Linked DNA regions of Homo sapiens: all the other regions are linked to region 1. The links come from fine-mapping of genetic effects on gene expression. A gene starts in region 1. Each other region holds a variant in brackets. All regions are shown on one strand. Distances are between the middles of the regions.

Evidence for each region. PIP is the estimated chance that this variant, and not a neighbour inherited with it, causes the effect. A credible set is the group of variants that fine-mapping cannot tell apart.
Region 2: its variant is the best candidate, but not a certain one, in a credible set for the expression of TPP1 in whole blood (INTERVAL, PIP 0.65).
Region 3: its variant is the best candidate, but not a certain one, in a credible set for the expression of TPP1 in lymphoblastoid cells (GTEx, PIP 0.65).

The regions. Positions count from the first base shown.
Region 1 is chr11:6,618,416-6,621,178 of GRCh38, reverse strand. TPP1 (tripeptidyl peptidase 1) reads left to right here and starts at 1,757. Exons shown (of 13, transcript NM_000391.4): 1 at 1,757-1,795; 2 at 1,912-1,983; 3 at 2,264-2,403. The coding sequence starts at 1,779. RefSeq lists an enhancer at 1,387-1,436 and a silencer at 1,987-2,036.
Region 2 is chr11:6,433,529-6,436,291 of GRCh38, reverse strand. The region is part of intron 7 of HPX (hemopexin); the gene reads left to right. Among named protein-coding and RNA genes, the nearest start is that of HPX, 6.1 kb to the left of the region's middle. RefSeq lists a silencer at 243-442 and an enhancer at 1,908-1,957. The variant G/T (reference allele first, on the strand shown) is at 1,257.
Region 3 is chr11:6,374,302-6,377,064 of GRCh38, reverse strand. No RefSeq gene overlaps it. Among named protein-coding and RNA genes, the nearest start is that of SMPD1, 15 kb to the left of the region's middle. The variant G/A (reference allele first, on the strand shown) is at 1,708.

The DNA.
Region 1 (2,763 bases):
CTATTCTTTTCCCTCTAATATGGGCAAAGAGGCCAGCAGGGCCTTGAGAGGGATCAGTTGGGTGGGAGAGGGGATCTTGGGGATGAGCAGCTCTGGGCCCGAAGTTCTTAAAATAAGTTGGGGTGGGTACAAGAGCAGTCAAGTGGTTTATTTGTTCTTCTTGGGGGCCACTAAAAATCCACATTGTAAAAAGAGCTCAATTTGTTGAGCCTTTGTCATGTCAGGCTCTCTGCAGGTGGCTGCCTTGCTTAATCTCAGTGTAAATTTTCACAGTCATACAAAGGGATTTGGGAACCACTGGTGTTGCCTGTTCTTTGGGGAGCCAGGCTGTGAGGGAAAGGCAATTGGCCAGTGTTTGAGAAGTTCATGAGATTGAGGAAATTAGAAAAAAAAAAAAAAGTTGTGGTCAAAGGGAAATGTTTCTGAGCATGATGCTAGTAAATACAGCTCTAGGATCCACGCTTAGTGGGAAACTGGAGGGATCAATGGACAGAGAGAAGTCAGATTAATAGGAGTGAGGAAAAACAATGGCTTGAAAAAACAGAAGGTTATAGTCTAAGAAAGCATTCTATAATTATAATTTCAAAGGTAGAGCAGTTTTGAGAGATAGCAAGCCCAATGCAGCCATGGGACTGGTTTGCTTAAGTGAAGTGAAGGTAATGCTCACTGGGTTTAATGAGATGAAGAAATGGAAGGTTAGGGTGTTGAATGGGTCTTTTACCTAGATATTTTGATCATCTAGGTCAAATGATCGCAGGAGTTGGGATGGACAGAAAGGTGAAGTGCCATAATCTTCAGTGTGGGAATATAATCTATAGGTTAATGGAAGCCAGTGGCCTGTAGGACAACAGCAGGAGTAGAGGGATCTATCTAAAAAGTATTGAGGTCAGAACAAGGGATTTCACATGAGTATTGGATTAATGGTTTTGGAAGTTAAAATGACACTGCTGACACCATCTTCCATATGGATTTTTGGGGGGAAAAAAAGGAAGACTGGAAGGGAATTGAATCCTCAGGGTTTTAACTCTCATTGAAAATCCTCTTGTAATGACCCCAGTTGGAAGTAGTAAACTCAGACCTCCTTGTGGGCTTTGAGTTACCATTAGAAGAAGCAAAGGTCCGTTTCCATTTTATCCACCTGAGCCCACTAAACAAGATGCAAGATTCCTCCATGGCCCTTAGAACAAAGTTGATTTCCTTGAAAACCTTGGGAACCCATAATAAACAGGACCCCAGCTGATTGTAGATCTCCTGGGAAGCTACTTAAAACTGGAAACTGATTTGAATAAAAGGATCCTGGTCTTGCAAAAGCTTTACTCTGTTCATAAATGTAGTCGTAAAATGAAGACAAAATTGATAATATGGGGACATAAAGGATAAAAGAGGAAAAAAATTTTTTCACTGCAATCTTTCGAGGCAGATCACTTTTATATAAGTCTCCATATTGTAAATGCAGAAACCTAGGCTCTGAGAGGTTATTTTGCTGATGTCATACAGCTAGGAAGAACCCCAGTCTGTGGGTCTCTACAGCCCACTCACTTGTGGTGATTCCCAGGGGACCAGGCTCAGGACGCAGGTGGGGAGCCCTGGGCTTACTCAGTGCTTGACTGGCCAGAGGGGAGAATCCGGGTGGCGGCCCCACCCTTGCCTAGCATTTGGGACCACCCATGCAAGGGAGGAGCCAGTACCGTCACTAGTTACTAGGCAGAGGGGTAGTGGTGGTGGAATATAGAGCTCATGTGATCCGTCACATGACAGCAGATCCGCGGAAGGGCAGAATGGGACTCCAAGCCTGGTGAGAAATTGAGAGGGCTCGGGAGAAAGGGATCACGTTGGAGGGAGCACACATTGGGAGGGTGGGAACACAAGGACAACGTAGCTCCCACTGAAACCCACCTGCTGCCCCTACAGCCTCCTAGGGCTCTTTGCCCTCATCCTCTCTGGCAAATGCAGTTACAGCCCGGAGCCCGACCAGCGGAGGACGTGAGTTGACTTAGCACAGACTGCCCCCTTCCCCATACCCTGTTCTGCCTCCCACTGTCCTGGTCCTAGCTTCTCTCACCCCCGTGCCAGCTCCTAGTACGCACTCCATAGCTTCATCTCTATGTTCCTAGCCTCAGTCCCCTATCATTCACCTCATGTGATCTGTATCTGCTCCTAGGATCCTCCCCAAGGTCTCAGCTCCTAATCTGGAACCTTCCATGACCAATATTTTCCATCTCCACCCTAACCAAAGCCATGTCCCTGACCCCTGACCCTACAGGCTGCCCCCAGGCTGGGTGTCCCTGGGCCGTGCGGACCCTGAGGAAGAGCTGAGTCTCACCTTTGCCCTGAGACAGCAGAATGTGGAAAGACTCTCGGAGCTGGTGCAGGCTGTGTCGGATCCCAGCTCTCCTCAATACGGTGCCTTTTGGGACTGAGGACAGGATGTGGGATGCGGTGGAGGGACACAGGGCTGGGTTGGGCATGGGATGGCGATCATGTCAGAGCCTGCCAAGACACTTGTGTTCCTCAGGCTAGAAACCTAAAAGGGGATGTGGTTCAGTATACAGGCTTTATGATCAAATACGAACTCAAATTCTGACTCTGCTACTTACTAGCTACCAGGCATCTAGTACAACTTACGTTCCTTCCCCTACCCTCAAATCCATTCTAATTTCCTCTTTTGTTCACATACTAAGGCTGCCAGTTCTAACTCCCAAAGAGCCTTTGGATTAATCTCCTTCTTGCCGTCTTTTGTTACGACCAACTCCGTTATTTATT
Region 2 (2,763 bases), 180 kb after region 1:
GGACAGTGGTAAGAATATAAAATCGTGAAAATATTTTTTTCACACAAAATTTTTTTGGCTCCTGACCCTTGGACAAATTTGACCAGTTATGACTATCAAGTTCTGTTGAAAAATACATCACCACATGGAGAGCAAATCTCCACAGCAGGATTGCACACTATAATAAGAACATACAGCTAAGATGAAACACACACCTGTAGTGAAAATACAACATTAAACTGAGAACATACGCCATAGTAAGAACACATAAGTATCAAGAGAACACACAGCCATGGTGGGAGCCCATTGGGAGGACACACAGACAAAGTGAAATGCAGAAAGAGAGAGAGAGTGAGTGAGAGATTGTGAAAACAGGGCCACAGGAAACACACAGAAATAGAGAGAGACACCAAGCCATCTAGAGATCACAGAACTTCAAGGCCATGTGGCCATAATGAGAATGCTACTGAACTCCTAAATGAAAAATGTCATGTATGTTCCATAGCTGTTGAGAGAGCCCACAGCATGGAGAGAACACCTTATATTAAAAATACCCAGGCCGGGCGTGGTGAGTCACGCCTGTAATCCTAGCACTTTGGGAGGCTGAGGCAGGTGGATTGCTTGAGCGGCTTGAGCCTAGGAGTTTGAGACCAGCCTGGGCAACATGGCAAAACCTCATCTCTACAAAAAATATAAAAATTAGTCGGGTGTGGTAGTGCGTTCCTATAGTCCCATCTACTTCAGAGGCTGAGCCCGGAAGGTCGAGGCTTCAGTGAGCCGTGATCGTGCTACTGCACTCCAGCCTGGGTGACAGAGTGAGACCATGTCTCAAAAAAAACAAAAACAAAAAACAAAACAAAACAAACAAACAAACAAAAAACCCATATATATATATATATACCTAGCTGAGGTGAGAATGCACTATTTTGGTAAAATCACCAACATGACCCAGCTACAGCATGGGGCAGTCCCTCCCCTCTCACTGGTAAATTTTTCTTTCTCTGACTCACAGTTTTGTTGTTGTTGTTGCTGTTGTTTGAGATGGAGTCTCACTCTGTCACCCAGGCTGGAGTGCAATGGCGCAATCTTGGTTCACTGCAACCTCTGCCTCCTGGGTTCAAGCGATCCTCCTGCCTCAGCCTCCCGTATAGCTGGGACTACAGGCGCATACCACCATGCCTGGCTAATTTTTGTATTTTTTTTTGGGTTACAATGTACTATTTATTAATTTAATTTTTGTATTTTTAGTAGAGATAGGGTTTCACCATGTTGGCCAG[G/T]CTGGTCTCGAACTCCTGACCTCAGGTGATCCGCCTGCCTCGGCCTCCCAAAGTGCTAGGATTACAGGCATGAGCAACCACGCCTGGCCCCTCATAGGTTTTTATCTATTCTCTTTGCTTCTTCACAACTTTGGCTTGCACGTGGACCATCATGTTCTCTCCACTTTCTCACTACTTCATGATCTTTCAGTCTCAGTTCCAACTGATACCTCCCTCAGTTGCTCTTTTTTCCTAGTAAGATTTCCAGAGAGGGAATCTGAATGGCCCAGTCCATATTTTCAGACCACACCACATTAAAGTGGTTGATTGCCAGCCTATGTATTGGCTACATTAATGGGTTGGGAACTCATCATTTACTTCATTGCACAAAGCAGCATAGCTCTGGTTCTCAAAATAGGGCCCCTGGGCCAGGTGTGGTGGCTCATGCCTATAATCCCAACACTGTGGGAGGCCGAGGGGGGCAGATCACTTGAGTCCAGGAGTTCTAGACCAGCCTGGGCAACATGGTGAAATCTCATCTCTACTAAAAATACAAAAAATTAGCCAGGTGTGGTGGCATGCACCAGTAGTCCCAGCTGTTCAGGAGGCTGAGGTGGGAGGATTGCTCGAGTGTGGGAGGCAGAGATTGCAGTGAACCGTGACTGTGCCTCTGCAATCCAGCCTGGGTGACAGATTGAGACCCTGTCTCAAAAAACAAATAAATAAAATAAAATAAATATGGTTCCTGAGCAGGGTAATTTCAGTGGGAAACCTCCCAGGGGAGGTGGATATGTCAGTCACCGCTGTATACTCAGTACACGGCTAATAAGAGAACTTGTGGTAGCAGCAAGAACACTAGGTATTTACTCAACAAATATTTGTTGAGCATCTGATAAGAAGTGGGCATTGTCCTAGGCACTGAGATACAGTAGTCAACATGGCAGACAAGATGCCTGCCCTGACAGGCTCTGCTAAAGTGAGAGAGGACAATAAGAAAGAGAAAGGAAGAAAGAGAATAATTTTAGGTAATATTAAGGGTTGTAAAGAAAATAAGACAGGATAGTGGGATAGAGGTGAGGAGAATGAGGGCTGTCTTCTGAAGAAATGATTTTTGAGCTGAGACTTCAGTGATGAGAAGGAATTAACCACACGATGTGCTGGAGGAAAAGCATTTTAGGGAGGGTGAGCAGCACATACTTCAAGGAATCAAGAAGGAAGCCTGGTGAGGCTGGAACACAGAGAAAGAGCAGGTGGGTGACTTGAAAGGGCAGGGACGGCAGTGGCCAGGTTACCTAGACCTGGTAAGGGTTTTCAACCATAAAAGGGAGTCATCAGAAAGTCTTGAGCAGGGCTGTGATATATTCTAACTCATTTTTTATAAAAGATCACTCTGACTTTTTGCAGAACATAAGTTATAAAAGTACAAGCATGTAAGCAAGGAATCCAGCTAGCAATCCGTGCAGTTGTCCAAATTAGAGGTGATGACCGCTTGGACTAGGATGATAGCAGCAGAGGTGGTGAGGAATCA
Region 3 (2,763 bases), 240 kb after region 1:
TTTTATATTGTTCTATCTCTCAGGGATCTGATTATATTAGCTATTCCCCTTCTCTTAGTTAATTTTTTTTTTTTTTTTTTTTTTTGAGATGGAGTTTCGCTCTGTCACCCAGGCTGGAGTACAGTGCCATAATCTCGGCTCACTGCAACCTCTGCCACCCAGGCTCAAGCGATTCTCCTGCCTCAGCCTTCTGAGTAGCTGGGACTACAGGCACGCACCACTACGCCTGGCTGATTTTTGTATTTTTAGTAGAGATGGGGTTTCACCATATTGGCCAGACTGGTCTCAAACTCCTGACCTCAGGTGATCCACCTGCCTCGGCCTCCCAAAGTGCTGAGATTACAGGCGTGAGCCACCTCACCTGGCCCTCTCCTAGTTAATATTAAGTTATGTCATCAGTGACAAAAAACTGAAAATAACAGCAGCTTTAAAGGAGGTCGGCATTTATTCCTCCCTCACATAGACATAGCCCATCCAGGACTTGCATGACAACGATATGATGAGCAGGAAACCAGGCTGCTTTGATCTTGCTCACCATCCCCAAAATGTGGCTTTCACCTTGTGGCTCATGCTCCAGCCATCATCTCTACACTCTTGCCAGCAGGAAAAAGAACAGAGCCCTTCCCTTTAAGGACACTTCCTAGAAGTTGCACAAGACATTTTTACCCTTATTTCCATGGCTAGAACTTGAACACATTATTCTACTGCAAGGGAGGTGAAGAAATGTCATTTTTGTTCCAGGAGGTCATTTACTCTGCTGAAATTCACAGACTGTACTACCATAGAAGATGGGAGAATGGCTATTAGAGGACAAAGACAGTCTTAGCCATACTCTTTCTTTCTGACATTTTCAACCTCTCCTGCTCAATTTGAAAATCCAATCAAGATTCTATCTTTAAAAGTCAAAATGAGGTAAATCAACACAAAACAAATGCAAGCTTCTTTCTAGACCTAACCCAGTATCCTTCACTATCGGTGTTTCTCTGCTCTGTTTAACAGAACATATCTCAAAAGAACGTCCTGCACATGCTATTCCCATTTCCTTGCATTTTGACCACCACGAATCTATTAAAATGGCTAAGGCACCTCGTGACCTCCACATAAACATATCTAAGGGGCCCTTTTCAGTCTCTGTCTTCTCGACCTCTCAGCAGAATGGGATGCATTTGATTGTTCTCATTATCTTTGACACTTTCTTCTCTTGGCTTCTCCGACACCTCAGTCTTAGCTTTTAGATTGTTAAAGCAAACTAAATATGGCCTGAGAAGGACTCCATACTTCTATATTTGAGTCCTTGTAGACAAATCGTAACATAGCTTAATAGGCAGACAAGATTGAAAACCTAATTTAAGACTATACACCTGTAATGATAGCTGTGTCTTGGCCAATCCCAGCAGCCATACTTCAACCACTCACAGACTGCTGAGTGTTCAAACTGTGTTCAAATAAGGCAAAGGCCAACCTGTAACCCATCCAGCTGTTTCTGTACCTCACTTTTTTTTTTTTTTTTTTTTTGAGACAGAGTCTCAGTCTGTTCCCCAGGCTGGAGTGCAGTGGCGCGATCTTGGCTCACTGCAAACTCTACCACCCAGGTTCATGCCATTCTCCTGCCTCAGCCTCCCGAGTAGCTGGGACTAAAGGTGCCCGCCACCATGCCCGGCTAATTTTTTGTATTTTTAGTAGAGACGGGGTTTCACCGTGTTAGTC[G/A]GGATGGTCTCGATCTCCTGACCTCGTGATCCGACCGCCTTGGCCTCCCAAAGTGCTGGGATTACAGGCAGTGAGCTCACTACGTGAGCCGACTTCTGGTTTTTGTATATTACTTTACTTTTTTTATTTATAAATCTGTTCTGACCATGAGGAACCGCTGGAGTCTCTCTGAATCTGCTGTGATTCTAGGGGCTGCCTGATTCATGAATCGTTCATTGCTCAATTAAACTCTTTTAAATTTAATTTGGCTGAAGTTTTTCTTTCAACAAGATAAATTTGTCACTAATGAGAGTGTTAATTTTTTTCCAGTTTGATTTTCTGTCTTTTGCATTTTGCTTATGGTGGGTTTTGTAATGTGGAATTTTTATTTTATATTGTCAAAATCTTGACCTTTCCTTTTATGGGTTATGTGTTATGTCATACCTAGAAAGACCTTCTATGCTCCAAGAGAAAAATCCTGTGCTTTCTTCTTCTACTTCTTCTTCTTCTTCTTTTTTTTTTTTTTTTAATTGAGACAGGGTCTCACTTTCTCACCCAGGCTGGAGTGTGGTGGCATGATCTCGGCTCACTGCAACCTCAGGTTCCCAGGTTCAAGTGATTCCCTTGTCTCAGCCTCCCAAGTAGCTGGGACTATGGGCATGGGCTACCATGTCCTACTAATTTTTGTATTTTTAGTAGAGATGGGGTTTTGCCATGTTGCCCAGGCTGTTCTTGAATGCCTAAGCTCAGGCAATTCGCCCACCTTGGCCTCCCAAAGTGCTAGGATTACAGGCATGAGCCACAGCGTTCGGCTGACTGTGCTTTCTTCTTCTGAAGAAAAGAAATAGAAATTGTGGCTCACATGGATCTTCATTCGGACTTGAGGTGTCTCACTGGGAAGCCCTGCTGGCCCCAGCTGGTTCCAAGCATCAGAGACTTAGAAAATGTTGCAGAAGTCACTCCAGAGCAGGGATCCGCTCAGAGGTGGGGCTGGGCAGAAGCCCTGTTTGAAAGGTCTAACGGCCATACTGGAATGTGGGAATTAACTTTTTTTTTTTTTTTTGAGATGGAGTTATG